2 linked regions of the Homo sapiens genome follow. The protein of the gene in region 1 purifies or fractionates together with the protein of each later gene. This does not show direct contact. Each region holds a gene or a part of one and is shown in the gene's direction. Other genes may lie near its edges.

Evidence for each region. The genes of interacting proteins can lie anywhere in the genome.
Region 2: the proteins of HELZ (region 1) and NISCH purify together in Homo sapiens (affinity purification with mass spectrometry, with the first as the bait; one large-scale study listed by BioGRID). This does not show direct contact.

What each region holds. Positions count from the first base shown.
Region 1 is NC_000017.11:67,238,682-67,242,275, reverse strand, and holds part of HELZ (probable helicase with zinc finger domain), read left to right. Parts: intron 1-2,786; 5' UTR 2,787-2,843; intron 2,844-3,594. UniProt on the Homo sapiens protein: May act as a helicase that plays a role in RNA metabolism in multiple tissues and organs within the developing embryo.
Region 2 is NC_000003.12:52,479,604-52,483,197, forward strand, and holds part of NISCH (nischarin), read left to right. Parts: intron 1-145; coding exon 146-259; intron 260-580; coding exon 581-692; coding exon of another isoform or gene 693-916; exon of another isoform or gene 917-1,275; coding exon of another isoform or gene 1,276-1,295; exon of another isoform or gene 1,296-3,154; coding exon of another isoform or gene 3,155-3,164; intron 3,165-3,594. UniProt on the Homo sapiens protein: Acts either as the functional imidazoline-1 receptor (I1R) candidate or as a membrane-associated mediator of the I1R signaling.

The sequences.
Region 1 (3,594 bases):
ACCCGGCTAATTTTGTATTTTTAGTAGAGAGAGGGTTTCACCATGTTGGTCAGGCTGGTCTCGAGCTCCTGACCTCAGGTGATCTGCCCGCCTTGGCCTCCCAAAGTGCTGGGATTACAAGCGTGAGCCACCATGCCTGGCCTTATCTTTTTTCTTGAAGCCTACAGATAATTTTGTGGAAAGGAGCCAGTGGTCTGCTTTTTGACTGTGGAGATGTTTGTTTGTAGTCTAAAATGGAATACTTAGAAGTAGGTAATCTTGTGTGGCTAGTGTTGTTTGACCTGAATTGTGTCAAGACATTTTCCACAGTTCTCACACATGTAGACTCTGTGAAGTGTTAGTATTCATTTCAAAGCGAAGTTAGTGGTTGGCCACTGAACAACTTGTTACACAAAGTATTCTAAAATGGGAAATGCCATAGTATTGAAGGTTGTGGTGAGGTAGAAGTCTGTGTCTCTGAGCTGAATAAAGACAGAGCTTTTTTAGTCTGTCCTTTTGGCTGGGAAGCTAGGACACTATTTTTAGGTAAGGCTGTAGTTTTTGGGAGTAAGTACCTTTCTATTAGCTGGTAAACTTGATTATTGCATTTGTTAACAAGAAGTTTTATTTTCTAATGCCATAGATATTAAAATGCATTGTCTTAAAGTTGGTATATATTTATAGACTGTCCAGTTTTCACTGGAAGAGGAGTGATGCCAAAACAACAGGAAAAGTCATTTTTACTTGCAAAGGGCCTCGTGTAATTAAAAAATCTACAGCATATTCATGAAAGGCTAAGAATAGTGCAGAGGGACCTACAAGTAAGTAGCCCAGATCTTACAGATGCATGTGTTCTCTATTTAAGCAGTAGGCTTGGCATTAATATTGAATGTAGATTAGTCTATAATTGTCTGTCAGAGACCCTAAGATCCAAATACAGGCCCCATACAAGAAATAAGGACCTTTGCCTGTTGTTTCAAATGTATAGAAGATTTCGGGCCAGGTGTATCAACAACAGTTATCCAAGAGATGGGGAGGAACTACTTAAAAAATTATAAGCAAATTTTTAGGTTTAATTTTCATAAACTTAGGTGAATATACATGCAGATGTAATTGGATTTCTAAGTAATGTTTTGAAATGTTTTCTAGAAGAAAAGTGATACAAGTGGAGAGTATGCCATACTATCTTACCATTCATTTCAGTTGATGAGTGCAGTCAGGGTTACTTCTGTAGCATTGGCTAGAAGCAGCATATAACATGATGGTTTATTGCTTTGAGGGTGGCTGGGATAATAGTTTTCAGTAATCTTGAATCTGTTAGAAGTGAATATTCCTCTTTTTAAAAGACCACTGTAGATGTAACAGGAAGAATTTTATTTATATATACATGTAATAACTATTTTGGTCAACTTTTAATTATTCAAAAGAAATGGAAAGTTTTTCAACTAATACCAACAGTCATACCAACTTGTTTACTTTTGTGAATTGTACTGGGTCAGTTTCTCCAAGTAAGAGCAGGAAGTTGTTTGGTAAAGCAGAGTGTATACATATATCTTGTCTTTGAACAAAAAAGAACTTGATTCATCGTCAGGTTCTTCAAAGAATGCATGGCATCTTTGTTGACTGAACTATTCTGAAGTGTGAATGTTTGTGATTTTTGTCATTTCTGTGCTATATTTTAGGTGTTCTTGTCACATCTGAATTTGCCTTTTTGCTTCCTTCTGCAGAAATTATCTTTGTTGTGATGAAAATGTCCTATAATGCGAGCTTCCTGTCAGTAGGCAACGTGTTTAACTAATACAGTTTTAAAAAATTATTTACTTTTATGCAAAACTCCTGTATGCTTATGGTAAACAAATTTGAGCAGTACTTATGTAAAGTAAAAAAGGTTAAAAAAAAGAAAAGCCTCTGTTCTTCTTCTGTCTCTAGTCCTGCTCCCTTGAGCTGAATCTGGCAAACAGCTGGGTGTCATTTAGCTTTTGGAAGACCTCTCTATTCCTGAGATATTCTGGCAGTGTGGAAGTAGAGTGAGAAGTCAGAAAAGGCATGGTCATTGAACCAGAGTTTGGATGTTGTGCAGGGACTATTCTGTTCTTATTTTCTGTGATAAGTAATAATGATAAACTACCATCAGCTTAAGATAACTGTAATTTGAATTGTGAAACATGAAAACAGTTAGTTCTTTAGTCAGGTTGGTAAAGTTTTGATTTGTTGATCTTTTAAAAGAAATATGCATGAATTGAATTCATGTAATGTTAGGGCTGGTGGGGGTTAATGGTAGTAATGAATTACCATCTGTTGAATTTTAGGATAAGCTGCACAGTATATTTACTATAGGCTTTTTATAACTCATCATCTCCTTTAATTCTCATAGCAACTCACGAGATAGTTATTTCCATTTTACAAAGGAAGAAATTCAGGCTTAAGTGTGACTCAACTAATGTAACGTCACGAGACCAGTAAAGTAGTGGAGCTGGTGTTCTTCCTGGAAAGCCTGTGCTCTTCTTTCTCTAGCTAGTCTAAGTGACTTATTTTCCAGATAAGGAAATATAGGCCTGAAGAAATTAAATGAGTTGCTCAAGGTCACACAGCTCAGTAGTAGCAACATTAAACCAAGCTTGTTTTTAATCTTTGGAGGCTTATCTCAAGACTCTTGGTCTAGTGCTGGTCATGCTACATTTTATTGAACTAGTGTGGACCAAAAGACCATATGCTGGGAATATTGGATACAAATGCTTTGGAACTGATATCTTGGTGAATGGTGTTTTCTACTATGTATTAAAAAAACTTTCTTCTTTGTCTTTCAGAAATTATAAAGAGCTCTGATGGGCTATTTGGGTGATACCCAGTGCAGTGAACTGCAGGTGAGTAAGGTTTAGAACTTTATTTAGAAAACAAGAATTTTATAATGCCTGAAAGAATAAGGTGGGACAAGGGTGAAGTGATACAGGGCTGTAGTGAAACAGTGGTAACCTGAAGGCACAGATCCTAACGGAATCGGTTACTTCTGGAACAGACTGAATGATGAACAAGCTCCGAAGAGACTGCCTGCTGCCTTGTCAGGTTAGTGTGTGAAATGAGTGAGGGTAGGTTAATCTTCCACTTCTGTTCAGATGAGTAACTGCATAGGGGCTCAGCTTATCTGCGTGCTATTGGAACTTGAGAGGTCCTTCAGTTTTTGTGTCAGCATTCTTGAGTGGCGATTACTTTGTGCTCCAGTGAACTTGGTTAAGTATTGAATTGTTTTTCCTGTTATCTGCTATTTACATAGTGTCATGAATGACTGTATATATCTGCAGTTTTGAGGATCTAAATATGGAGAACATATCAATAGAAACAAAAGGTTGAACTTTTTTTCCTAGTGGTTGTACTACCTCTATTGATACTATTAGTCTTTCAGATTATTTACTTTTTGCTGAAATACCTGTTAATTAAAAACAGTTTAGTCTTGAGTATTTATTATTTCACAGTAATTAATCTTCTTGGTCAGCTATGGTGTCTTCGTCTTTCATTATTACACTTAGAAAATGGTAATACTACAGAAATAAATTAGAAGGCTTTTAATACTTTCCTTATGAGGCATCAGAGTTAAAATTATTATTATTTTTTTGAGAC
Region 2 (3,594 bases), on another chromosome or scaffold:
AGCAGGTGCTCACGCCTCCTCCTCAGCAGAGCCCTACCATCCTCCTGCCATGCTCACCAGTCCCCATGCTGATAGCCATCACCAGTCCCCATGCTGATAGCCATCACCAGTCCCCATGCTGATAGCCACTTTCTGGATGCTCTAGGTCTGTCTGGATGACACAGTGACCACAGAGAAGGAGCTGGACACTGTGGAAGTGCTGAAAGCAATTCAGAAAGCCAAGGAGGTCAAGTCCAAACTGAGCAACCCAGAGAAGAAGGTGGGTTTGTGTGGCAGGTGGGAGGGCAGTGGTGCAGAGCCAGCCGGGATAGGAGCCAGTTTGGGGGGCTTGGGCCATGGGACTGCTCAGGGCTGCCGAGTCCCAGCTGCGCCCCTCCCTGGCTGCATGACCTCGGGCAAGTCGCGGCCTCTCTGTTCTCTGTGGGGTGGGGACAGTGGTAGTTCCTGCTCTAAGGATATGATGAGACCATCTTTACCACCCAGTTGGTGGGAACCGTTGCGCTCCCTCCTCACACCCCTGGCCTTGGGGAGCTCTGTGCTTCCTCTTCTCTCCCGGGCTGACTCAAGCACTCGTCCTCAGGGTGGTGAAGACTCCCGGCTCTCAGCTGCCCCCTGCATCAGACCCAGCAGCTCCCCTCCCACTGTGGCTCCCGCATCTGCCTCCCTGCCCCAGCCCATCCTCTCTAACCAAGGTAATCGTGTATGTATCTTGCTTCTAGTGGAGCCACACAGCCCTGCCTGGGCCCCCTGGCTGGGCTGGGGTTGGGGGAGAGGTGCCAGCACCTGCTTCCAACAGGGTCAGACACAGGGAGGGCAGTGCCTTCTGCAGGCTGGTCCTCGCGGGGGGACACATGGCAGGGGTGCCTGGCCTGATGCCAGCTGTTGCTTGCTTGGTGAGGACTCCCAATTGCTCTGATGCCCACATCCAGCTCCTCTAGGAGACCGCAGGGTGTCTGACAGGCCCTGAGGCTGCCCTCTGAACAGGCTCGGGGCTGTTGGCTCATGGGACCCATTCCCTCACCGGCAGCACAAGCAGGTTGGCTCCTGGTTACAGGAAGCCGGGCTTGTGACTTTACTGTCTGGAGCCCGAATCCCTGTGCAGGGAAAAGCTTGCTTTTATCACTGCCTCATCTCTGTGGGGTGACCCAGCCCCAGAACACCATGTTTGTGGGGCCAAGATGGGCCATCTCTGTCCCTGTGGACCCATGGAAGACCAGGCCCATTCGTCTGCCCACTATCTTAGCGTTTTCAAAGGGCTTTCACCTCTGAACCCAGGCATCCTCGGAGATGAGTGAGTGAAGCAGGTCTCATGAGCGTGTCTGCTGGCCCGGCCCCCACGGAAGAGGGGAGGGTGTGCCGTCCCGAGTGGAGCCGAGGCTCGGGACACGCAGGAAAGGACGCCGCCTGCCCGGGCTCCTGGAGACGCAGAACTTGGTGTGAGGTCTTGGGAAAACAGTTCAACCCGATGTTTTAAGAGCCAGAAAAACATTCCCACCCCTTGACCTGGTAACCCCACTGGTGGGGATTTTCTCTTAGAGGGATAAGATACCGGGAAGGGGAGGTGAAATGCTCACCACTGCCAAAACACGGGCTGCAACTGCAACATCGGAGGATGAGAGGGAGAGTCGGCTGTGGTGCAGAATGCTCAGCAGCCCTCCCAGCAGGGACAGGAAGACTGGGCAGGAAGAGGGGAGAAGCATTCAAGTTAAGGCAAAAGGCCCAACGCAGAGCAGCACACTGAGGTCACACCTGTGAGATGTGGAAGAGAATTCCTGAGCGTGGAGCGATGGGGTTAGGTGCCAGGATGATTGCCCATTTTGCTTCTGTCAGACTCTTGACTAAGGATTTCTGGTTGCATTTTATTACATAAAAGCCAGGGAGGTTATATCACGGTGAGAAAGCTTCCCTGACGCTGCCTCCTGTAGCGCAGCCAAGCGAGCCTGTGGAGGTACCATATGACTGTAGGCCTCTGGGGACAGGGAGCTGCATCTGCTTCTCAAGGCCAGGGACACAGCCATTTCTGCCAGCATCTGTTGATCAGTGAGTGAGTGAGTGGGCAGGTAGAGCAGGAGCCAGTGAAGAGCAGGCCCTGGATGGGTGGGGATGCACCATGTCCCCAGGCTGCAGCTGCAGGCAGCCCCCCACATTGTCGGAGAAGCCTCTGCACCAGCTCAGCCCCCTCCTCACTCCCCTTGTGCCCTGGGGACACTCTGCAGAGGGGCACTCTGCAGTCTGTCCCCGCCATCGCTGGACTTCTGGACATGGCCTCCAGATTTGCACCTCTTAAATAAAACTGCAGTGGATGTCTTTGTGTGCACCTCTCTTTCCTTTTGGTGAGAAACAGCAAAGATCGGACCCCTAAGGACTCTCCTGATGTCTCCGCTCTATCCGCTGAGTGCCCTTTCTGACCACTTGTTTGTACAGGCCACGGTCCAGGACGGGAGCAGATAGACTGTCCCTGTCCCTGTCCACATTTCCTTGGTCCAAACAGGGCTTGTGGGAGGTAGTGGCAAAAGGTGTTGGTCTTTTTCTCACTGATTTGGAGGCCTCCCCGTGTGTTTTTTCAGCCGCGTGTTCCTGGGTCTTGCCTGGATGGACAGGGTTTTTTAGCGCGTGGGAGCAGCTTTGCTGACCCATGCCTGTTGCTTCCAGCCTGATTCCCGAGAAGGGAGCCTGCTTGCGAAGGAACTGGCACTCGGGCCTGCCTGAAGGGGGCGCTGTCCAGACAACACCCAGCCTCCCGTCGTGGCAGGCGCTGTCGGAGCCATGGATGATTGTGACCAATAGGGGTGGTCGCCAGAGTTGATTGTCCAGCCAGGCCCAGGGGCTGAGAGGAGGCTGTGTGGAGAGGTGGTTAGGAGCCAGGGCTCGGTCAGCTGAGTTCGCATGCCAGCTTCCTAGCTGTGGGACCTCAAGCAACTTGTAGCCCCTCTGAAGCTGTTTTCTCAACTGTGAAGTGGACGCACCCTACTTCATTGATTCTAAGAGGCACGCATTTCCACCTTGTGACTTCTCTGAAACTGAGGTGCGTCTTTCAGTCAGTGGCGTCTCATAGTCGCTGTCAGCCAGCTGGTATTCGAGATGGAGTCGTGGAAAACCCGTGGACACCTTCCGCTAGGACCAAGATGGCGCCACCTGCCGCATCTTAGATTTGATGAAATGTGGTAAATAACGAGAGGCATGCATGAGCGAATGCTGGGGAGGCGCTTGGCACTACCCAGAGCTCCACAGAGGTGGTCGATGAGGGCTGCCCTTTCCCACATCCTTAGTAGGGGGTTCAAGATGACCCAGACTGTGCCCCTGGGGAGCTTGGAGCCATGCGGGAGGATGAGCCATGTGCTGGAGGAGAACAGGGTAGGATGGTGTGGGGCTTTTGTAGACTGTCTAGAGCAGAGAAGGTCTGCAGTGGAGGTGGTGTCTGAGGTGAATCTCGAAGGTGAATAGGAGTTGAACGTTAGCAGGCAGAGGGTGGATTGCAGGAGAGCAGCGGCCTGGGCAGGTGCCCAGCGTGGCCCATCAGGGTGCTTCATGCATGGCTGTGTGCTTGCCATCCTTCCTGCCTGCCTACCCCCTGCTGCTTCGCTTCGTGGGGGC